Linked DNA regions of Homo sapiens: region 2 is linked to region 1. Evidence: fine-mapped expression QTL. A gene starts in region 1. The other region holds a variant in brackets. All regions are shown on one strand. Distances are from middle to middle.

Region 1 (11,870 bases):
AGATTTCAAATTAAAATCTCAAGTTTATCATAACAAATGAATTAGAAAATGTCTATGAAGGAGAAAAGAGCTAAGAATACTTGAGATCTGTATAAATAAAAAAGAGAAATAAGTCAGGGTAGGACTTGTATATTTGGAAATCAACACTTGAAATAAAACCACAGGCTAGGCACAGTGGCTCACACCTGTAATCCCAGCACTTTGGGAGGCCAAGGCGGGTGGATCACTTGAGGTCAGGAGTTCAAGACCAGCCTGGCCAACACGGTGAAACCCTGTCTCTACTAAAAAATAATTTTAAAAAAATTAGCTGGGCGTGGTGGCATGCAACTGTAATCCCAGCTACTCAGGAGGCTGAGGCAGGAGAATCACTTGAACCCAGGAGAAGGAGGTTGCAGTGAGCCAAGATCATGTTACTATGCTCTGGCCTGGGCAACAGAGCGAGGCTCTTTCAAAAAGAAAAAAAAAGAGAAAAGAAAGAGAGAAAGAGAAAGAAAAAAAAAAGAAAACCAAAGATTTCAGGCAGTATGATGCTAGCAGAGGGATAGACAAATGGAACAAAATAGAGGACCGAAAACAAACCTATATGTGTATAAAAATCCATTGTAAGAGAGTTCTGGCATTGCAAATGAAAGGAGAAATGAATTTCAGATAGAATGTGGACTTACACATGAAAGACAAAATTGTAACACTTGAAATAAAATATGGGAGAATATTTTTATATCCTTGGGGTCAGAAAGGACTTCTCAAAACACATGAAACAAGGCAAAAGACACCATCAATTAACAAAAGAGGAAACAGGACTAGCTATTAAACATTAAAGATGCTCAGCCATACTGGTAATTGGGGAAATACAAACTACAACTATTATGAGAGATCATTTAGATGAAAACAAGTGCTGGCAAAGATTGTGGGACATGGATGACTTTCTTTTTTTTTTTTCTGAGACGGAGTCCCGCTCTGTCACCCAGGCTGGAGTGCAGTGGCACGATCTCACTGCAAGCTCCACCTCCTGGGTTCACGCCATTCTCCTGCCTCAGCCTCCCGAGTAGCTGGGACTACAGGCGTCCGCCACCATGCCAGGCTAATTTTTTGTATTTTTAGTAGAGATGGGGTTTCACCGTGTTAGCCAGGATGGTCTCGATCTCCTGACTTCGTGATCCACCCGCCTCGACCTCCCAAAGTGCTGGGATTTACAGGCGTGAGCCACCATGCCCGGCCAGATGACTTTCATATACAGGTGTTAGAAATGAAAATTGGTATGACCACTTTAGAAAACAATTTTAGAAAACAACCAGTTTAGACAGTTTGACATTACCTAGTAAATTTGAACGTGCACTTACCTTAAGACCTGATGATTCCACTTCTAGGTATATATCCTAAAAAACATTCTTACACACATGTATCGGAGAAATATTTAAGAATATTCACAGCAACACTGTTTGCAATAGCAAAAACTGGAGCCAATCCAACATCCAAAAGTAGAATGGGTAATTAAATTGTGTTATGTTTTTACAACAAAATACCTATATAACAGAGAAATCAGATAGGTGAATCTCAGAAACATAATGCTGGGCAAAAGCTGCAAGTTGCATGGGAATAATGCAGAATGATTCTATTTTAAAAAAGCTCAAAAACACGCAAAAACAAACCATGTAGTGTTTAGGGACACATATATTTGTGATAACATAATTATTAACACAAAACTTAGGATGGTGGTTTCCTCTGAAAGAGAAGGATATGATTATAGAGCGGCAGATGGAAGGGTTCTTCCTTGAGTGGAAGCTTTAGCAAAGGCAGTTTCAGTGGAGTGGCAGGGATGGAAGCCAGAATGGTGTGTTGAAGGCTGCGTTGAAGCTAACAACATGAAAGACAGCTAATGCAGTCAGCTCATTAAAGACATGTTGTTGAAAATAGGAGCAGATTATATTATCACAAAGCAGTGAAAATGATCATTTGCAGAGCAAACTTCTTTCTCACAAGGCAGAAGGAGGGTGAGCTAGGGTGAATATAAGAGGCTGGCTGTGATTGAGCTGAACGTAGGGGCAAGAACAGAGCTGCAGCCTGGGAGCCCTTCTCATAAAGAGGGAGATTTAGGAGTCTTCTTCGTTGGTCGCCCAAAGACTGTCTGCCCACTTGGAGATAAGCAAGCAAGATCTCCAAGCAGCTCAGCCACTGCCTGCTTTGGCTCTCATGAGACCTCCTGCCAGGAATCCCCATTAATCAAAGTCTGGGAACAAAAGCAGACCAGTCAGTTCCCAGGAGCGCTCACATGTCTTGCAGGCTGGCTTGGGCTTTCTGTTTCTTTCGGGGTCATTGCTCTGACTACCCACAAATATAACTTAAAATCTCATCTCAATGTGACTTTCTGGTGATGTTTTAAAAGCCTATCAGGGAAACTGAGCATTTGCATCTTTGGAAGTTTATTCGAGGGACTAGCTAGGAAAACTCAATGTGGAAAAGTACAAGAGAGAAATGATCACATTGAAAGGTCATGTGGCTGGGCGCGGTGGCTCACACCTGTAATCCCAGCACTTTGGGAGGCTGAGGCAGGTGGATCACAAGGTCAGCAGTTCGAGATCAGCCTGACCAACATGGTGAAACTCCGTCTCTACTAAAAATACAAAAAAATTAGCTGGGCGTGGTGGCAGGCGCCTGTAATCCCAGCTACTTGGGAGGCTGAGGCAGGAGAATTGCTTGAAACCGGAAGGTGGAGGTTGCAGTGAGCCGAGATTGCACCACTGCACTCTAGCCTGGGCAATAAAAGCAAAACTCCATCTCAAAAAATAAAAAGAAAGGTCATGTGTACAAACTTTGACTTTGAGGGTTATCTAGGAACTCATTAGTAACCTGCCTGGAGAGAAACCTGGAGCTACAAGCCAGCAGAGAAAGGAAATGTGTTCTTCTATCAGCTCCAGGTGTAGAGCAACAGGAATGGGGCACAAATCTGAAGAAGGGCTGGGCGCGGTGGCTCACACCTGTAATCCCAACACTTTGGGAGGCTGAGGCCGGAGGATTACTTGAGCCCAGGAGTTCAAGACCAGCCTTGACCTCCTCTGTGTTAAACATAAAAAAATTAGCTGGGCATGGTGGTGCACACTTGTAATCCCAACTATTCAGGAGGCAGAGGCAGGAGGATTGCTTGAGCCCAGGAGTTCAAGACTGCAGTGGGCTACTGCACTTCAGCCTGGGTGACACAGCAAGGCCCCATCTTAAGGGGGAAAAAAAAGTCTGGAAAAGGCCAAAGGATACTCAGAAGAGAGATTTCACATCCTGTTAGGTAAAACTGCAGCTGTGACTATGGGGTTGGGAAAATTTCAGAAGCAGTAGGAGAAAATCAAGAACTTCCCCTTCCTAGTGTGGAAACAGGCTCTTGGGATCTCTCCTGCCTAATGATCCCTGAAGGAGAGAGGGAAACAAACATCTTAAGGAAAAGGAAGAAATCATCATGTTTCTTTTCTCCTGGAAACCAGGCCTGTTTCAGAGGGAATAAGAAAAGTCGGCTGGGTGCAGTGGCTCATGCCTGTAATCCCAGCACTTTGGGAGGCCGAGGCTGGAGGATCACGAGGTCAGGAGTTCGAGACCAGCCTGACCAATATGGTGAAACCCCATCTCTACTAAAAATACAAAAATTAGCCAGGGATGGTGGCGGGCACCTGTAATCCCAGCTACTCAGGAGGCTGAGGCAGGAGAATCACTTGAACCTGGGAGGCGGAGGTTGCAGTGAGCCTAGATGGTGCCATTGCACTCCAGCCTGGGTGACAGAGTGAGACTTCGTCTCAAAAAAAAATTTTAAGCAAGAAAGAAAAAAAAATCAGATTCGTGATAAGCTTGTCCCAAAACCTCAGGTAAGATTGATAGTCCATTTTAGGGTGCTGCTTGCCTCCTCTTCCATCTCTCCGCCTTTGGAGAGCAGATACCTGTCCATGCTTCTTCAAAGGGTGGAATGAGATCCCATCCATCTTACATGTATTCAACAGTAGCTTATTGAATGCTTCCTGTGTTCAGGGAGCTCTTCTAGGTATTGAAGAAGTGGCTGTGAATGAAAATAGACAAAACCAGACTGAGATAATGGTATGTAAAGTGTGATATGAATATGGGGGTCAGGCTCGCTCAATGCTTTTGCCATTTCCATATGGGATGATTCCAACAAGATACTTATAGTCAAGCTGTTAGAAATAAAGGCTTCCTTTCCCCTCTCCAGCTACCCCAATAAATCTGGGTCATTCATCATTGTTGTTCAGTTTGTACTGAGCAGCCCCAGTTAAGTGAGCTATGGTTATATTGAAATATCCACTTGGCCACGAATTGAGTGAAGGTGGGAGGTTCCTCCTGCTAATTCTCCTCCCCTCCCAATACACTTCCTGGCAACCCCCACGCGGAAAACCTCACCCTACTATAGGCCCCCTTCCTCCCACTCTTCAGAAGGCGGTGGCCCCACCCAGGAGAGGGCTGCAGATCGGGGCCAGCCCCAGGGCCTCCGCGGTGCCACCTCTCTCTCGCGAGGGTCCCTGCCGTGCCCCGGCTCGCCGCTGGGAGGCGCTGCGGCACCGGCGTAGGAGCCGCCGGCAGGGGTGGGGCGGGGCCGGCGGGACGGGGCAGAGGGCCCTGCGGCGGCGGACGCGGCGGGCTCGGCCACAGGTAACCCGCAGGAGCCGAGAGCGCTGCCTGGCGCGCGGGCGGCTGGAGGCACGGCGCTGGGCGGCGCCGAGGCCCTGGGGCCGCCGGAGCCAGCGGGAGCCAGTCCCCGTCTTCGCCCCTCGCCCCCCACCGTGTCGCCGGCCTTGGTCCCTGCGGCGCGGACGTCCGGCGCGGGAGAGAAAGGTACCAGGCGACCTCGCCGGCTCCCTGGGACCCCCGCTTACACCGGGGTGGGCGCCTCAGGTCGGGGAGGACGCTGTCGGGGGAAGGGGGCGCTGCTCCCTCGGCACCCCAGGATCGCCGACTGCCCGCGGAGGAGACCCGGACACCGCGCCTCGCCCCCTGGCCTGCGGCCTCCGAAAACGCCCGGCGCGAGGGGGTCCCCCCGGGGCGCCTCCCTCTTCGCCTGGCATCAGTTGCCTCCCTGGAATATGGAACTTCGGGCGAGGGAGGTGGAGAACTTTCTTCTGGGGCTCGTCCCTCGTTCTCCTGCTCGCTTGCAGTTTGAAGGAAGGGCGGTGGGGGCGGGGGTCCGAGTACCCCGCGGTCTGCGGCGCGTAGGAGGGTAGGTCCCTGGCCTGCGGCCGCCTCCGAATGACCCCGTCCCTCCCCGCCCTGGACGACAGCACTAGGGTGCAGTCGCAGGAGAGGGGCCGATACCCCTCAGGAGCCCCATCGGCGAAGCCTCAGCAAGTGGCATCTCCCGGGGTCCAGAGAGTCGGCGTGCTGTCTGGTTTGGGTCCAGACATCAGCTCACCCAAGCTTATCTTGGGCTTTTAAGTGTGTTGCTTCCGGTAGATCTCGGGGACTGGAGGGGAAGTGCAGCATTATTTGTGACCCAAGAGGGACTTGAATGTCTCAAAGCTGGTCAAGAATGTTTCCCCCGCGAGGTAGCATGAGATGGGTCACGTGGTAGTAAAGAGCCACTTCGGGCCCGTGAGATGGAGTTCTGACTCCACCACTTGTTAGGTGTGTGACTTTGGAAAACCCACTTCTTTAAACCTTAGTTTTTAGAACTCTAAACTGCAGGTATTGTACATAACCTCGTAGTATTGTGTTCATGCAGTGAAGTGATGGGAATGAAATGCTTGGCATTGTACTCTTGTGTGTTAGACACCTTTTGCGAACCTGTTGGATGTTGAATTCATTCATGCTTAGGTTCTGTTAGGCCAGTGTAAGTGGAAAGAACTTGGGCAATGAAGACAAACACACCTGGGTCCAAGGTGGTCCCATCCATGGTATACTGATTGGGGGTTTCTCATCCCCAAAACACCAATAGCAGCCTTGGCGGGGTTTTTGTTGTTGTTGTTTTGAGACAGAGTTTCGCTCTGTTGCCCAGGCTGTAAGCTTTGACCTCCTTAGCTCAACCGATCTTCCCACCTCAGCCTGGGACCACCACACCTGGCTAATTTTGAATTTTTTTATTTTACTAGAGACAGAGTCTCACTGTGTTGCCTAAGCTGGTCTCGAACTCCTCCTGTCTCAGCCTCCCAAAGTGTTGGGATTACAGGTGTGAGCCACTGTACTGGTCTGCAGCCTTGTTCTTGAGTGTAGTAGGTGTGTCTATACCGATACATGTTACACTTTGTCATCTTTAGTATTTGTTTAGCATATGGTAACAAAAAATTTTTTAAAAATTAGGGATACAAATTAAAATTGGGGAGTATTTTCTGCCCTCTAGGTCATACTGGACATGGGGGAAGGGTAGAAGAGGGATGAAGAGGAATTAAAGAGACCAGAAAACAACTAGTCGCAGTGTTGGGAGGTATAAACCAATGGTAATTTTTAAAAATGTGAATTTATTAACTCCTTGTTTTTTCATGGTGGCACCAAAAATTAATCTTAGTCTCCCACTTAAACTCATCAGCCTCCCCAAAGCCTTTCCAGATAAGCATATGCTCCATGTAAAAGCAGACTGCCTGCGATCCAACTCAGCTTAGAGACAAGGCACACTTCCAACTCCCAAGGCCTCCTTCTTGTATAGAGATGCTGGTGCTGCCACTGTGAAATACATCATACACTCAGACAGTATAAACCTTAGAGTGCAATGTAAAGAATAACAATAGATCACACCCAAGTACGAGTCACCCGGCTGAAGAACTAGAACATCGCCAGGCCCCTGGAGCCCCTGAGTACCCCTCTCCATTGCCTTCCACTCACTTCTCGCCTCCCACCCAAGGAACCACTATTCTGGATGTTGTGTTAACTTTTTCCCTTGCTTATATGAAAAACCCTGAGGAAAGGAAGTTTCCCAACAAGCATTTCCACAATAACCTGGAGCATTCTTTATTTTTCTTTTTTTCTCAAGGAGCATTGTTATTGAACTTAAAAGCAGGCTATTGAGGGTAAGATACAAACCACAAAAAAGCCGAAAGTCTCAAAGTCGGGGGATCTTTTAGTCTCTGTCTTCTTCCAAGTTTCTCCTGTCTCCCTGGCACGGATCCCGAAGGTGTGTTCTGTCTGTGTAGGGGAGACCCAGTCTCTTCCAACATAGATTGATGGCTGTGATTTTAAAAGCTTTGCTTGAGTCCCTAAGAAGTGGGAAAACAGTAATTTGGGTGCGTGCGTTTTAGAAGTTTTTTTAAAAATGCAAATTATCCAGAAGGCATTGTGTGGGATTTGAAGGATTAAGCTAAGAGTGACCTTTAAAAATGGTTTTAACAACCCAAATTCCTCTTCCTGGTTGATATGTTTGTGTTATTGTCTTTGTTTTATTTCTTCAAGGTCACATGGCTTTCCTTGGTGAATCTTACACTGTTTTGTTACTTCTTGGTTAAGGCAAAGATTCTGAAACTTGGTTTCATGGAGCCCTTAGTGTCTGAGTTAATTTTTTCACAATTCCCTTAGGCTTCAGTAGTTAGTAATTTTTTCACAATTCCCTTAGGTTTCAGTAGTTAGTAGTTAGGTTCAAACAACTGAGTATTTACTTAGAAGTTGTTTGAAAAAATAATATACATAAACTGAGAGAAAAAATATTTTACATCCTTTAAAGTCATAATTACTAACCGTATGTGTGTGCCTATACTACTTTTCAAACCTTGGGATCGTGTTGGACACTGCCACTCTCATTTCCTGTTTCACATTAATATTTCCGCAGCATTTGGCTTTTATCACAGCAGCCACAGAAAACCCAGCTTTGCAAAGATGTATTGTCTTGGATAGGAATGTAACATGATCTACTGTTGAAACTGCAAACTACCTCCAGTTAATAGGTTCAGCAGTGTCCAGACATGTTTGGTATACTAGTTTCCATTGAAATTTTCAGATTTTCTACATTGCCCATTTTAATTTGCTATAGTTGCAAAACACCCAGTCAGGGGGTCCAAAATAGTAAACTTTGAAAACATTATGCTAGGTGAAATAAGTTAGTCACAGAAGGGACAATATTGTATGATTCTGTTTATATTAGGTACCTAGAGTAGTCATACACATGGAGACAGAAAGTAGAATGGTAGTTACCAGGGGTAGGGGGAGGACAGAATAGGGAATTCATGTACTATTTTTGCAACTTCTATGTAAGACTAATATTATTTCAAAATAAAGTTTTTAAACGTTTTTTAAAAACAAATTCTGTTGATGGTGCCCCACTGCTGGACTGTACCAAGGCACTGAGGTTAGGGACAGCAGCAGAGAAAAGCTTAGGGGTGACATTATCTCTATTTCCCAGCTCTTCCTCATCCCGTCAAGGGGGAAGAGATGGAAGAAATAGCTATGTTCTCTCTCTTTTATAGGGAAGTGTCTGCATTATTTACTGGTGGGTTCCTTTATAAACCTGAGGATCAGCTATTAAATTTGTCACTAAAATAAGAATTTTTAACCTGGGGTTCAGTGGTGGGCTACAAATACTCTAAGATCTCCCAAAATTATGTATAAGTATTTAAGTGAATGCTCTTATGTATGTTTGAGGGGGAAGAAGTTCCATAGCTTTCATCAGATTCTCAAATGGTTTCCTAAGTCAAAAAAGGTTAGTAAGCGCTATAAGGAAATATTTACAGATTCCTACCTACCCCCACCCCATAAAAGGCCCCTTTATTTGGATGTCTTATCCCATTTCAGTTCTCTGACATATCTTTCCCCCACCAGTTACAAGAGGCTTTCTTTCTGCTCAGACCCCAGATAAGCCCGACCAGTTCTTTTTCCTCAGAGCCCCCAGCTATTCATCTGGATCCTGAAAACTCCAGGACCAATTCCTCAAGAGCCAAAGGAAGTCCCAGAATGAACATCTTGGACTTCTGAATAGGGCAGATGTGGAACTGAAGTCTCACAACTGCCACATCTCTCTGTGCCCTCCTTAGGTCTAGAAAAATATGAAGTAAATAATAATATATTAGGTACACAGCTATGGAAAAACTCATGAAGATGGTACTGAATGACTGAAGTCCAGTACATTCTGCTTTGGGGGAGGCAAATTTAATTTTAAGAGTGTCTTCTGGTTTACACTTTATGTTCCAAATGTATTCTAAATATAGCATACAATACGTCCTACCTTGTTTCATATCCAGTGATACAGATGAGCTATAGAATTTACACAGTGTTAGAAAAGATGTTAAATATCAGAATTTACTTAATAAGTAGGTCTCTACTCATTCAGACTGGTTTCATTTTATTTTATTTTATTTTTGAGGCAAGGTCTCGCTGTCACCCAGGCTAGAGTGCAGTGGTGCAATTTCAACTCACTGCAACCTCTGCCTCCTGGGCTCAAAGCCATCCTCTCACCTCAGCCTCCTAAGTAGCTGGGACTACAGGCACATAACACCACGCCCTACTATTTTTGTATTTTTGGTAGAGACAGGGTTTCACCTTGTTGCCCAGGCTCACACTGGTTTTAAACTCAGATGAATGGGGTAGGTAAGTGGCAAAAATGGTAACCTGCAAGCTCTTCTTATACATATGATTCCTCAATAGTTGCATTTATCTTAGAAATACTTCAATAAATCATGATTTGAGTCTTTCACCGATACAGGTATATTCTGTATGCTGTAAGGTAGGCTAACTGCTGTAACAAACATTTCCAAACCTCAGTGGTTTAATCTAGCTCACACAAGTCCTAATCAGTTATTCCTGTTGGGCAGCTCTCCTGGGTAGCTGTCCTTCAGGTGACTCAGGGATCAAGGTTCATTCCTTCTTGTGATGCCACCATCTTCATGTGGTCTCCAGAGTCACTGCAAGGGGGAAAGAGTATGGCAAAAGGAAACCGTGTTGACTGCCTTCACCAGCAAGGGAAACACATCACTTCTGCTTACATTCTATTGGCAGAACCAGTCACATGGCCTCAACTAGATTCAAGGAAGCTAGGAAATACAGTCCCTGGCTGGGCAACTGTTTCTTAGTAAAAATAATTTACTTTGGGAAAGGAATAGAACTCTTTGGTGGATGAGTAGCCATTTTTTGTACAATAAGGTGCTAGTGTTTTAACTGGTCAATTAAGTGTAACTGCCTTTATGTAATTTATTTCTAACTTTTTTTTTTAGACAAAATCTCGCTCTGTTGCCTAGGCTGGAGTGCAATGGTGCGATCTTGGCTCACCACAACCTCCACCACCCAGGTTCAAGTGATTCTCCTGCCTCAGCCTCCTGAGTAGCTAGGATTACAGGCAGCCACCACTGTGCCTGGCTAATTTTTGTATTTTTAGTAGAGTCAGTGTTTTGCCACATTGGCCAGTCTGATTTCGAACTCCTGACCTCAGGTGATCCGCCGGCCTCGGCCTCCTAAAGTGCTGGGATTACAGGTGTGAGCCACTGCACCTGGCCTATTTCTTACTTTCTAAACATATATGTGTATATGTATATATATGTATGTGTTTGTATATATGTATATACACTGTATAAATAAAATGTTATGTCTTCATAGTGGAGGGTGTGGAGAAGACTTCTATACAGGAAACAAATGTATCATAATTGCCATGTGAGCAGATAAAAATGCTATTAAGCCATCTAGGCTCAGACATTTATTAGGGAATGAAGCATATTTAATTTACTCAGAATCATCCAACCATGTAGAGAATTGTACATTTGAGAAAGACGGAGCAGAGAAAGATTAGCAAAGAACAAGAATATGCATGTCTTAATGGCTTCGTTAATGTTATCATAAGAGTTTAAAACTACTTTAGGCTGCTGGCAATAGGCTAGGTATGAAACTTATTCCCCCTTCAAAAAAAAAAGTTTTTGCCATGGAATGTGTTACATAATCACAAAGTATATGTGTCAATTTTACTTATTTGCTCTTAAGGGAAAGTAAAATTGTAAAATTTGTATCTGTTTTTCTTATTTGTTTGAAGTAAATTTGTGCCCAAGAGGGTGCACAGCATCAAATGGTAGACATTAAAGGATTACAAGATCATGTGAAAGATCCCAAGACCCAGTTAGAGTCATGGAGAAACTTCAGTAATGTGCACTAATTCTAGTAATGCTTCAGCGTCATTTATCTGTTACTAGTTGACATTGGGCTGTTCTACCTAAGGAAAAGGCCCAAATAATTAAAATTTACCATCTTTTAAATCCTAATTTTCTTTTTTTTCTTTTTCCGAGACAGGGTCTCATTCTGTCACCCAGGCTGGAGTGCAGTAGTGCCATCTTGGCTTACTGCAAACCCCGCCTCCTGGGTTCAAGCAATTCTTGTGCCTCAGCCTCCCGAGTAGCTGGGATTACAGGTGCACCACCATACTCGGTTAATTTTTGTATTTTTAGTAGAGACGGGGTTTTACCATGTTAGCCAGGCTGCTCTTGAACTCCTGACCTCAAGTGATCTGCCCACCTTGGCCTCCCAAAGTGCTGGGATTACAGGCCTAAGCCACCATGCCTGGCCTTAAATCCTAATTTTAAAATAAAGTTTCCTGTTTCATGGTGCTCATATTGGTGTAGTGAAGGAAAAAATAATTTTTCCTCTACTCTTGTGAGTTCTCAGCTGGGAGCCCTGTAACAAAACATAGGTTAACAAGAGAAAAACAAATGGAAGTTTATTAACATGCATATTTCATATATACATGGGAGAAAATTCAGGGAAAGAGTAATTCTCAAAAAGATTTCTTAGAACTCTGGCTTATATAGCATCTTCAACAAAGAACAGTACACTTTTAGAGAAGTGACAAGACAAAGGAAAAAGACCTTCAGTCTTTAGCGATGGCGAATTGTAGGAAGGCAAATACATGGGGAACTAATGGCAGATAAAGGCTAGTTAGTGCAGTTTGTTATGTAGATGCCTCTGGTGCCTTCTCTAGGCTGTTAAGGACCTAA
Region 2 (11,870 bases), 140 kb after region 1:
TCTGCAAGTTTTTTCTATACATAGACTTAATTATTTGCTATTTTATAAACAGCTTTATTAAGATATAATTTACGTTCATTAAATTCACCTATTTTAATTGTACAATTCAATAATTTCTAGCGTATTTATACCACCACTGCTATGCACTGAATTGTTTCTCCCCCAAATTCGTTTTTTTCAACCCTAATCCCTAATGGTATTTAGAGATATAGGGCCTTTAGGAAGTAATTAGGTTTTTAAATGGGGTCATGAGAGTGGAGCCCTTGTGATGAAATTAGTTTCTATGTAAGAAGAGGCACCAGGGTCTGCTGTCTCTCCTTCTCCCTGCTATGTGAGGACACAGTGAGAAGGTGGTCATCAGCAAGCTAGGAAAAGGGCCCCCACTGGAACCTGACCACGCGGGTACCCTGAACTCACGCATCCCGGCCTCCAGAACTGAGGAACAAATCTCTTGTTCTGGCAACCTGAGAAGACTAATATAAGCACATTCAAATATTAGAACATTTCTATTGTCACAATAGAAAATTTTATATATATATAATTTTTTTTTTTTTTTTTAGACAGTGTGTCCGTCTGTTGCCCAGGCAGGAGAGCTCACTGCAACCTCCACCTCCCAGGTTCAAGTGATCCTTGTGCCTCAGCCTCCCATGTAGCTGGGACTACAGGCACATACCAACATGCCTGCCTAATTTTTGTATTTTGAGTAGAGATAGGGTTTCACCGTGTTGGGCCAGGCTGGTCTCAAACTCCTGACCTCAGGTGACCCACCCACCTTGGCCTCCCAAAGTGCTGGGATTACAGGCATGAGCCACCGCGCCTGGCTCCTAGTAAAAATCTTCGTACCCAGTAGCTGTCACTTCCCATTCCCACCCCCAGCTCCTGGCAACCATGAATCTACTTTTTGTCTCTATAAACTTACCTTTTCTAGGCATTTTATGTAAATAGAATCATATGGTATGTGGTCTTTTGTGTCTGACTTCTCTCACTTAGCATAAAGTTTTCAAGGTTCATCTCTGTTGTAGCATGTATCAGTACTTCATTCCTTTTCATGACTGAGTAATAATCCATTGTATACATATATTCTGTTTATTTCTTTATCAGTTGATGGACATTTGTGGTTGATTCCAGTTTGGGGCTATTATGAATAATGCTTTTGTGAAAATTTATATACAAGTTTTTGTGTTGGAAATATGTTTTCAGTTCTCTAGAGTATATTCCTAGGAGTGGAATTGCTGGGTCGTATGGCAAATCTGTTTAACACGTTAAGAAACTGCCAAGCTATTTTCCAGAATACCTGTACCATTTTACATTCTACCAGCAATGTATGAAGGTTTCAGCTTCTCTACAATCTCACCAGTGCTTGCCTGTCTTTTTTTATACATCATTTGCTTTTTCATAGTTATCTTTAGCAAAGATTCCCATTGGAATTTTAAAACTATTAGTTCAAATACTGCTAAAGGTTTTTAATAAAAACAGTGATCCCTTAGCCCAGTCCCATTTACACTCCAAAGAAACAACTTTCAGCCTTCTAGATGTTTCTTTTCTGGTATTTGTCTCCATATTTCCAATGAATATGTATGTTCTACCACCTGATTCAACAGTTTAGTTTTTTTAGTGAAGTCAAGTTTAATATTTTATTTATGTTATACTCGTGTGTGTGTATGTGTGTATATGTGTGTGTGTGTGTGTGTGTGTGTATAATTTATTTAAGATATGCTCCCCTCTGTCACCCAGGCTGGAATGCAGTGGCATGAACATAGCTCACTGTAGCCTCCACCTCCTAGGTTCAAGCAATCCTCCCACCTCAGCTCCCTGTGTAGCTGGGACTACAGGCATGCACACTGTTAATTGTTAAGACAGGGTCTCCCTACGTTGCCCAGGCTGGTCTCGAACTCCTGGTCTCAAGTGATCTTCCCTCCTCAGCCTCCCAAAGTATTGGAATTACAGGCATGAGCCACCATGCCTGGCCTTTCTTTTATATTTTTAAAATTTATTTATTGTGGTAAAATATACATAGTAAATGTACTACTTCAACCATTTTTAAATGTATAGTTTAGTGGCATTAAATACATTCACATTATTGTGCAACCATCACCACCATCCATCTTCAGAAATTTTTCGTCTTCCCCAGCTGAAGCTCTATACCCATTAAACACTAATTTCTCATTTCCTCCTCCCAGACCCTGGCACCCACCATTCTACTTCCTGTCTCTGAATTTGACTGTTAGCCGCACCTCAAATAAGTGGAATCATACCATATTGTCCTTTTGTGACTAGCTTATTGCACTTAGCGTGTTTTCAAGATTCACTCATGTAGCATGTACCAGAATTTCATTCTTTGTTAAGGTTGAATAATAATCCATTTTATGTATATGCCACATCTGGTTTATCCCTTCATCCACTGATGGACACTTGGGTTGCTACCGCCTTTTGCCTGTTGTGAATATTGCTGTATGAACATGGGTATACATGGGTGTTTGAGCCCTTGCTTTCATATCTTTTGGTTATATACTCAGAAGTGAAATATGGTAGTTCTATTTTTAAAGTTTTGGGTAACTTCCATACTGTTTTCCATGGCTGTTGCACCATTTTACAGTGCTACCAACAGTGCACAAGGGTTCCCACTTTTCCACATCCTTGACAATACTTGCCTTCTGTTTTTGTTTGTTTGTTTTTTTGAGTCGGAGTCTCGCTCTGTCGCCCAGGCTGGGGTGCAGTGGTGCTATCTTGGCTCACTGCAAGCTCCACCTCCCGGGTTCACGCCATTCTCCTGCCTCAGCCTCCTGAGTAGCTGGGACTACAGGTGCCCGCCATGATGCCTGGCTAATTTTTTTTTTATTTTTAGTAGAGATAAGGTTTCACCGTGTTAGCCAGGGGTGGTCTCGATCTCCTGACCTCGTGATCCGCTGGCCTTGGCCTCCCAAAGTGCTACTATTTTTACTGACCTTCCTAATGGGTGTGAGGTGATATCTTGCTGTGGTTTTGATTTGCATGTCTCTGATTATTAGTGATATTAAATGTCTTTTTATATGCTTGTTTGCCATTTGTGTATCATCTTTGGAGAAATGGCTATTCAAGTCCTTTGCCTATTGTTTAATCTGGTTATTTGATTTTTTTTGGTGTTGAGTTGTAAGAGTTCTTTATATATTCTAGATATTAATCCTTTATCATATATTTGATTTGCAACATTTTTTCTCATTCTGTGGTTGCCTTTAGGAGTACTTTTTTAGAGCCGTTTTAGATTCACAGCAAAATTGAGAGGAAGGTCCAGAGATTTCCCGTATTGCTCCCGCCCCTAAACATGTTTAACCTATCCCATTATCAACATCCGCCACCAGAGTGATACATTTGTTACAACTGGTGAGCCTATACTGACGCATCATTATCACCCAAAGTCCATAGTTTACATTACGGCTTATTCTTGTACATTCTATGGATTTGGAAAAATGTATAATGACATACATCCACCAGTATAGTATCATATAGATTATTTTTACTGCTCTAAAGATCCTCTGTGCTTCACCTATTTATCCCCTTCCCTCCTCCCACCCCAATCCCTGGCAACCACTGGATCTTCTTACTGTCTCCATAGTTTTACCTTTTTCAGAATGTCATGTTGTTGGAATCATACAATATGTAGCCTTTTTATATTGGCTTCTTTCACTTAGTTATATGCGTTTAAGGTTCTTCCATGTCTTTTCATGGCTTGATAGTTCATTTCCTTTTAGGACTGAAAAATCTTCCGTTGTATGGATATACTACAGTTTTGGAAGCATTCACCTACTGAAGGACATCTTGGTTGCTTCCCAATTTTGGTAATTATGAGTAAAGCTGCTATAAACATTTATGTGCAGTTTTTTGTGTGGACATACACTTTCAGCTTTTTTCACTAGATACCAAGGAGTGCAGTTGCTGGATCACATGGTAAGAATGTTTTGTTTTGTAAGAAACTGCCAAACTGCTGGATTCCCATCAGCAATGAATGAGATTTGCTGTTGCTCCACATTCTCACCAGCATTTGGTGTTTCAATCTTACGGATTTTGACCATTCTAGTAGCTTTACAGTGGTATCTCGTTGTTTGTAGCTTGTCTTTTTACTCTGCTGATTGTGTTCTTTGATGCACAAACATTTTCAAGCTTGATGTCCCATTTGTCTATTTTTGCTTTTATTACCTGTGCTAGCATTGTCATATCCAAGAAATCATTGCCAGATCCAATGTCATGAAGCTTTTCCCCTTGTAGAAGCTTTATAGATTTGGATCTTATATTTAGGTTTTTATTCCATTTCGAGTTAATTTTTTATATAGTGTAAGGTAAGGGTCCATCTTTACTTTTTTGCATGTGGGTATCTGGCTTTCCCAGGACCATTTGTTGAGGAGACTATCCTTTTCCCATTGAGCGGTCTTGGTATCTTTGCTGAAGATCATTTGACCATATACATGAAGGTTTATTTCTATGCTTTCTATTATATTTCACAGGTTTTATATATTTTTATTCTAATACCAACTGTTTTGATTACTGTAGCTTTTAATGTGTTTTGAAGTCAGAAAGTGTGAGCTCTTCACAGTTTGTTTGTTTGTTTGTTTTGACACAGAGTCTTGCTTTGTCTCCCAGGCTGGAGTGCAGTGGTGTGAACACGGCTCACTGCAGCCTTAACCTCCTGGGCTCAAGCAATCCTCCTGCCTCAGCCTCCTGAGTAGCTGGGACTACAGGCATGTGTGCCACCATGCCTAGCTGATAATAATGAGCAACTTCCTGGGCGATCCTACTGCCTCAGCCTCCCAAATACCACAATTTTAAAATCAGACTTATAATTATTGTGACTATGTAAATGCTGCTCACTGGTTAGCTGAGAATGATTACTTTTTTAAAAAATATATATCTTATTATTTTTCCTGGAGCTGATAGTTACCCTAATTTTTTCACTTGTTTAATTTGATTTAAATTTATTGGTAAATGTTTCATCTACTATCTGATAACTCTGTAAAACCGTTCTTAGTGCAATTCTCCATGAGTAAACCTATTACATATTTATCAGCCCGAGTCTTTTCCTGGGGATATCCCCTCTGGAGTCATTTATCCTTCTTTCTGATTGATCTGGGTTGCTCTCTAGTTCTGCACAGTCATCTTGAGAAGTCCTTTCACCTCTCCCCTGTATTAGATCCCTGTTTGCTGGAACCCATGTCACTCTAACTTTGATACTGCACATTCTTTGATTTCTTCCTAAGAAAGGGAATATGTACATAAATTTTTTGAGAGTCTGCATGTCTGAAACTCCTTATTCTACCCTCTTGCTTACGGGACAATTTGGTATAGAAACCTAGGCAGAGAATTATTTTGCCTAAGAACTTCAAACGCAGTGCCTCATCTTTGAACTTATAGTGTTGCTGTTGGGAAAGTCAGCTTATAGTGTTCCTTGCAACTGTCTTCTGAAAGGCCTTTTGCATCCACTCTGCCCCTTGAAGGACCTGCCCATTCAGGACTCAGCTCAGGAGCCACCACCAACATGAAGTCCACCCAGTGAATGGTACCCTGGATGGAATTTGCTCTCCTCCCAATTGATGTAACCTTGTTCTCTATGCATTCTGTGTCCTTCATACTGCTCTGTGGGTGCTCAGAACTCCCCACCACATCATCACTGTGACCTGGGTCATAGTGTCTCTCTTACATTTATCTGTGTTTGACAGAGGAGAAAGGCACTGAATTTGGAATCCAAAGACCTTGGTGTAGGCACCTGTTCTGCTGCTTATTAAAGGCTTATTAATGTAGGCCAGGGTTGTTCAGCCTTAGCAACATCACTGACATTTTGGGCCAGATCATCCTGTGCTATTGGGACTTTCCTGTGCATTGTAGGGTATTTAGCAGCATCTGTGGCTTCTTGCCATAGATGTGCTGGTAGTACTTCCTTTCCTTGGATTTTGACAACCAAAAATGTCTCTGGACACTGACAGACATCCCCTGAGGAACAAAATCATCCCCGCCTCAGAACCATGGATTAGGCCAATCATGACAGGAGTCTCTATTTCCTCACAAACCTTAGAGTTTCCATAAGCACTAAATGTGATAGCACATGTTGCCATAGTTATAAAATCTAAGTGGACATAAAATATTGATTATTTTTTAACTCATCCAGTGCCTAGCAAGGTACTCACATCCCATCTGTGCCGAATGAGGGGAATAATGTTATTGACTGTGAATTTCTTACACTTTGATAGCAATTGCAAGGTATTAGGTACTCTTGTAAGAGCTCTACAACAATTAAGTATTTTAAACCTCACCATGGCTATTATCCCCATTTTACAGATGAGGAAACTGAGGCAAGGAATGATCAGGTAACCTGCCCTAAGTTTCCCTTAGAAAGTGTCAAAACTGGGACTCAAACCCTGGCCATGTGGTTCGAGAGTCCTTGCTCCCACAGGAGGCAAGGAGGAAAGTTCCCCTTGGCCCTTGAAGGCTCACTGAAAAATCAGCTGACAAATGGCAGATAAATTGTAGAAGAGGCATAAAAATTTATTTAACATGTACATACAGGAGCCTTCAGAATGAGGACCCAAAAATGCAGGGGAAATTGTCCATTTTTATGCTTAGGTTCAAAAGAGTGTGGATAGCCATGTA[G/A]AAATATGATTGGACAGAAAGGGCACGATCTAATGCTGATTGCATGGGAAACCCAGCAAAGCCTGTCTGTCTACATTCTTCTTGGCCTTTCTGAGCTGAGCATTTCTGCCTTCTAGGTATGAGGCAGGACCCTCTCTGGAATGGAGTGTTAAGACCTACATTCAACTAGGTCAGATAATTTCTTTATGGCTTGCTTTTACGCAGAAAGGGGAGGAGGGGAAGGTTAGAGTAATATTTTTAAGTTTTATGGCTGGCTTTGAGGGTAGCAGATTCTGGTTTCTATGACCTGCCTTGGGGGAAGAGGGATTCTAGTTTCTATGGTTAGCCTCTGGGGAGGAATTGAGGGGCCAGAGATAGGAGGGCAGGAAGAGGTCAGAGAAAAACTTTTGCTTGTGAGGCCTTCCTTTTGGGTTGTTTTTTGAGCCCCAACACTGGTAACCATCATGTTTCCACTATGTGGTTTATAAGTTTAGATTGTGAACTTTCTATGGGCTGCTGCTTGTTAGAGCATATTCCTTGGCACCTGACACATTGTGGATATAATCTGCAAATGTTTTATTGACTGGGAGCTCAATATGCCCAGGTACTTTACTTAAAAAAAAATAAGCGATTTCCCAATAATGGGATTGTACTTGTATAAAACATTTCCGAATTATTTTCATGTATATGTTGCTTGTCCCCAGAGGCTTGTAAGATATATATGGTTTCCCTTGAGAGGAAATGAGGTCACAGAAGGAAAGTGACTTGTTCAAATAGGGCATGCCAGAGCCCAGATGAGAACTGGAATGTCCTGGCTCCTGTGGACATTTTCTCTGCCACAGATAAGGGCATCTCTTCTGTCCTGGGAATTTTACTTCAACTCCTAGTGGGTGGTTCCAGTATGTTGTCCACTAAGTAAGGATGGGGTTGTCATGCACAGAACATGTCTTCAGAGCAAGTGGGGTTGGGAGCTGGAAATTGATGTGGGAACTACATGTAAGAATTTAAAACTCATGTTTTAAGAGAAAGGCTCACTAAGAACTATGATTTTCCATTTGCACAACTTTCTTTCTTTTTTTTTTTTGAGACGGAGTCTCGCTCTGTCACCCAGGCTGGAGTGCAGTGGTGCGATCTCAGCTCACTGCAAGCTCTGCCTTCTGGGTTCACTCCATTCTCCTGCCTCAGCCTCCTGAGTAGCTGGGACTACAGGCGCCTGCCACCACGCCTGGCTAATTTTTGTATTTTTAGTAGAGATGGGGTTTCACCATATTAGCCAGGATGGTCTCAATCTCCTGACCTCATGATCCACCCTCCTCGGCCTCCCAAAGTGCTGGGATTACAGGCGTGAGCCACCACACCTGGCCATTTGCACAACTTTCATATTTCGACCAGTTGTACTTCATCATGTTGACAAACACATTTTCAGCTGGAACAGGTAATCTGATAAAAGCACTGGGTATGCTGAGAAGTCTGAGATATCTCTGGAGCAGATTATTAAAGACAATAACTCAGGCTCATGACCCTTCACTTTTCTGCTACTCCTTTCACCAAAGTCACCTTTTCCTTCCCTCATCTAGACAATATATTTTGAGCTTCAGCTGTGCACTGGTGAACAAGACAGGAAAAAACATCTTGGTCCTTGCTGGAGCTTGCATTCTTGGTGAGACAGGCTAGAATTTGACACTGTTGCCTGCACTCCTATCCCTGAAGCTCCCGTTGGGTCTGTCAGCTCTGCCTCCTGGTTTTCCTCCCCAAGGTGCCTTCTCCATCTCCTTTTGCTTTTCCTGCCTCTAAAATTGGCTTTCCTCAGGCCCTCTGCGCTCATCTGCTCTCCCTCTGGACACCCACTTGGCTTTTCCAGCTCAAGGCTGGTTACCATGTCTCCATCTCCAGCTTCGCCCTGTCTCCTGATCCCCAAGGCCAGCTGCCTTCATGGGCATTTTTTATTTTTTATTTTTTTTTGAGACAAGAGTCTCACTATATTGCCTAGGCTGGTCCTAAACTTCTGGACTCAAGTGATTCTCCTCCCAGGTAACAGGGACTACAGTCATGAGCCACCATGCCCAGCCTTCCTGGGCATCTTTATGTGCAGAATCCACAGGTTCAAATCGAAGTGCCCACACTGGAAGCTGCAGCCCCTCCTGAGGCCTGGTCCTCTTCCCAAGGTCCCTTTTTATCAGTACGAGGGAGCCCCATTTGTGCACACCTCAAGCAGAAGCCCAAAGCCATCGTTTCTTCTTTTGGGTCTTTGACATCCCTCCACTGACGCTTCCTGTCAGTGACCAAGTGAGGCTCATTATGCCTCCTAACTTCTCTCAACTCTGTGTCTTTCTAGTTGCCCCTGCAGGCACTGCTTGAGATGTTTGATACTAAAACAAAAAAATGGGATATATTTTTTCTTTGCAAGAAAGCTCTGGTTTTATAAATGAACATATTCTCTCCAGTTCCCTTGTGCTTTAGTCAAATACCTTCTGATACAGCTAATTTTGTTACCTCAGTACCAACAGGTGTTTTGTCATCTGGATAAATCCTCTACATGCTCCTTAGTGCCAAGCATTGGCCATAACATTAGAGTTGAGAGCCTCTAGGAGTCCCCAGGCAGAGTATCATTTCCTAGAACTGTTAAGAAGCTGGTTAGCCTGGGAAACATAGTGAGACCCTGTCTTTACAGAAAATAAAAAATTAGCTGGGCATGGTGATGCACACCTATAGTCCTAGCTACATAGGAGGCTGAGGTGGGAGGATTGCTTGAGCTCAGGAGGTTGAGGCTGCAGTGAGCCATGATTGTGCCACTGCACTCCAGCCTGGGCATCAGAGGGAGATCCTGTCTCAAAAAACAAAACAACAAAAATGCTGGTCCTTGGAATGTTTTACTGAAGTTTTTATCTTCTCCAAAAGGAAGTAGACAAAGGTTGTTTTATGCAAGTTTGGTTAAGAAGAAAATTCAGTATCATTCATAAAATTCATCTCCATTTGATACCTACCACTCTCCCTGAGTAACGAAATTGGAATTTAGATAATTAAGCACAAACCCCAGGGCCTCAAAGAGCTTGTTCATAGAGGGTGAGCCCCCCAGAGTTCTCTGCAGAGTGGGCAGGCAGAAAACTCAGGAGGTGCCACAGGGCAGGTAGCATGGAGACCATACGGTGTGATCTACTTCAGTTTAAATAGGCAAGTCTACTTCTCTCCACAAATGTATGCTTTCATTTGGTGAGCCAGGAGAACGACATGGGACACATGAGACTGTTAACATTGGCTGCCTAGCAAGGAAGACGATTAGCTTTTTCCCCCTCCCGCCTCCTTTTTTTTTTTTTTTTTTTTTTTTTTGGAAACAGAGTCTCACTCTTTTGCTTAGGCTGTAGTGCAGTGGCCCAGTCTCGGCTCACTGTAACCTCCACCTCCCGGGTTGAAGCGATTCTCCTGCCTCAGCCTCTTGAGTAGCTGGGACTACAGACACGTGCCACCACACCTGGCTAATTTTTGTATTTTTAGTAGAGATGGGGTCTTGTCATGTTACCTAGGCTGATTTCAAACTCCTAGCCTGAAGTGATCTGCCCGCCTTGGCCTCCCAAAGTGCTGGGATCACAGGCATGAGCCACCGCATCCAGCCTGATTTTTTTCATTGTATTGTTTCAGTTATTAAAATAAGCATATATTAATTTTGTACTTTGTCAAAGATAAAGTCAAGTTTAAAAATATGTGTTGAGTGCCTGCACCAGCAGTGGGCCAGGTGCTTGCCATATACTATCTGGTTGAAATCCTTACCACAGCTCTGCCAAGCTAGTGCTCTTATCGCTGAGATACCAATAAGGAAAGGGAGGTGCTAGACAGAAAGTAACTTGCCCATGACCAAAGAAGTAGTAGGTGCTAGCCCTGAGAAGGAGCCAGCTTTATGTGGCCCTGAGGCCCACATGTAGGCACTCCTGACCCTTGTTTCCAGCACCTCCATAGTCCTTGCCCTTCCACCACTATGCTGGCCACCCCTCAGTGCAGACAGAGAAAGAAGCTGTCTGCAGGGTGGCCCAAAGGGAATTTTCTCCTCCCCTGTCCTTGCCTCCTGCACACCATTTCCAGAGTTTTATAGCAAGTTCAGAAATTCCTGATGAAGGCGGTGTAGTGTAGAAGGTACAAGCGTGGATGCAGGAGCCAGGTGCTCTGTTTCAAATGCCAATGATATTTACTAGCTCTATGGTCTTGAGGAAATAACTTTGTGCATCATATCATCACCTCTAAAATGAGGATTAAATAATAGTAGCTACCTCATTAGGTTCTTTAAGCACTACCTGAATCAGTATATGCAAACTACTTAGAACAGTGCTTAGCACATAGTCAGTGTCAAATATAGTAGGCACTGAGGGGATTCTGACAATGCAACAATGCTAAGAGCTGTGGTCCAAGTATCAGGCAGGGAGTCCTGAGTGGAAGACACAAGGCCATTCAGTATCCTACCTGAAAAGTGAGGATAATCTCAGCCTCATGAGATCGCCATCAAGACTAAATGAAGGCCGGGTGCAGTGGCTCATGCCTGTAATCCCAGCACTTTGGGAGGTCAAGGCTGGTGGATCTCTTGAGGCCAGGAGTTCAAGACTAGTGAAATTCCATCTCTACTGAAAATACAAAAATTAGTCGGGTGTGGTGGTGCACGCCTGTAATCCCAGCTACTTGGGAGCCTGAGGCAGGAGAATTGCTTGAACCCAGGAGGCGGAAGCTGCAGTAATCCAAGATAGTGCCACTGCACTCCAGCCTGGGCCACAGAGCAAGACCCTGTCTCAAAAAAAAAAAAAAAAAAAAAAGGCTAAATGAGATGACAAAGTGTCTCAGTGTCCAACATTTAATAAAACTATCAGCTTTTTGGAGTAGAAGTTGAGAAGCTGATTCTAAAATTTATATGGAATGCAGAAGACCTAGAATAGCCAAAGTGACGTTGAAGAACAAAGTTGAAGGACTTCTGCTACCTGATTTCCGGACATACTGGTATCTTCCAGACTTACTAGAAGAGTCAAAATTATAGGGACAGAAAATAGATCAGTGATTGCTAGGGGCTGGAGATGGTGGGAAATTATTGACTGCAAAGGAGCAGGAGGGAATTTTGGGTGGGGGTGATGAAAATCTTCCATATTTTGTTTGTGGGGTTGGCTGTGTACATTTCTCCAACCACATGAAAGTGAATACTTTAAAAAAGTTGATTTTGTTGAATGGAAATTATACCTCGAGAAACTTGATTTTTTTTTTTTTTTTAAAGATAACTCTCTTAATTGTTACAGATGAGGAAACAG

The links. PIP is the estimated chance that this variant, and not a neighbour inherited with it, causes the effect. A credible set is the group of variants that fine-mapping cannot tell apart.
Region 2: its variant is the best candidate, but not a certain one, in a credible set for the expression of ANKRD6 in whole blood (INTERVAL, PIP 0.84).

Annotation. Positions count from the first base shown.
Region 1 is chr6:89,428,555-89,440,424 of GRCh38, forward strand. It overlaps ANKRD6 (ankyrin repeat domain 6), which reads left to right and starts at 4,598. Exons shown (of 16, transcript NM_001242809.2): 1 at 4,598-4,821. LOC124901360 (a long non-coding RNA gene) reads right to left here. Exons shown (of 2, transcript XR_007059675.1): 1 at 4,863-11,870; 2 at 1,654-4,033. RefSeq lists a silencer at 4,390-4,869.
Region 2 is chr6:89,568,392-89,580,261 of GRCh38, forward strand. All of the region lies in intron 2 of ANKRD6 (ankyrin repeat domain 6), which reads left to right. Among named protein-coding and RNA genes, the nearest start is that of MDN1-AS1, 64 kb to the right of the region's middle. The variant G/A (reference allele first, on the strand shown) is at 6,616.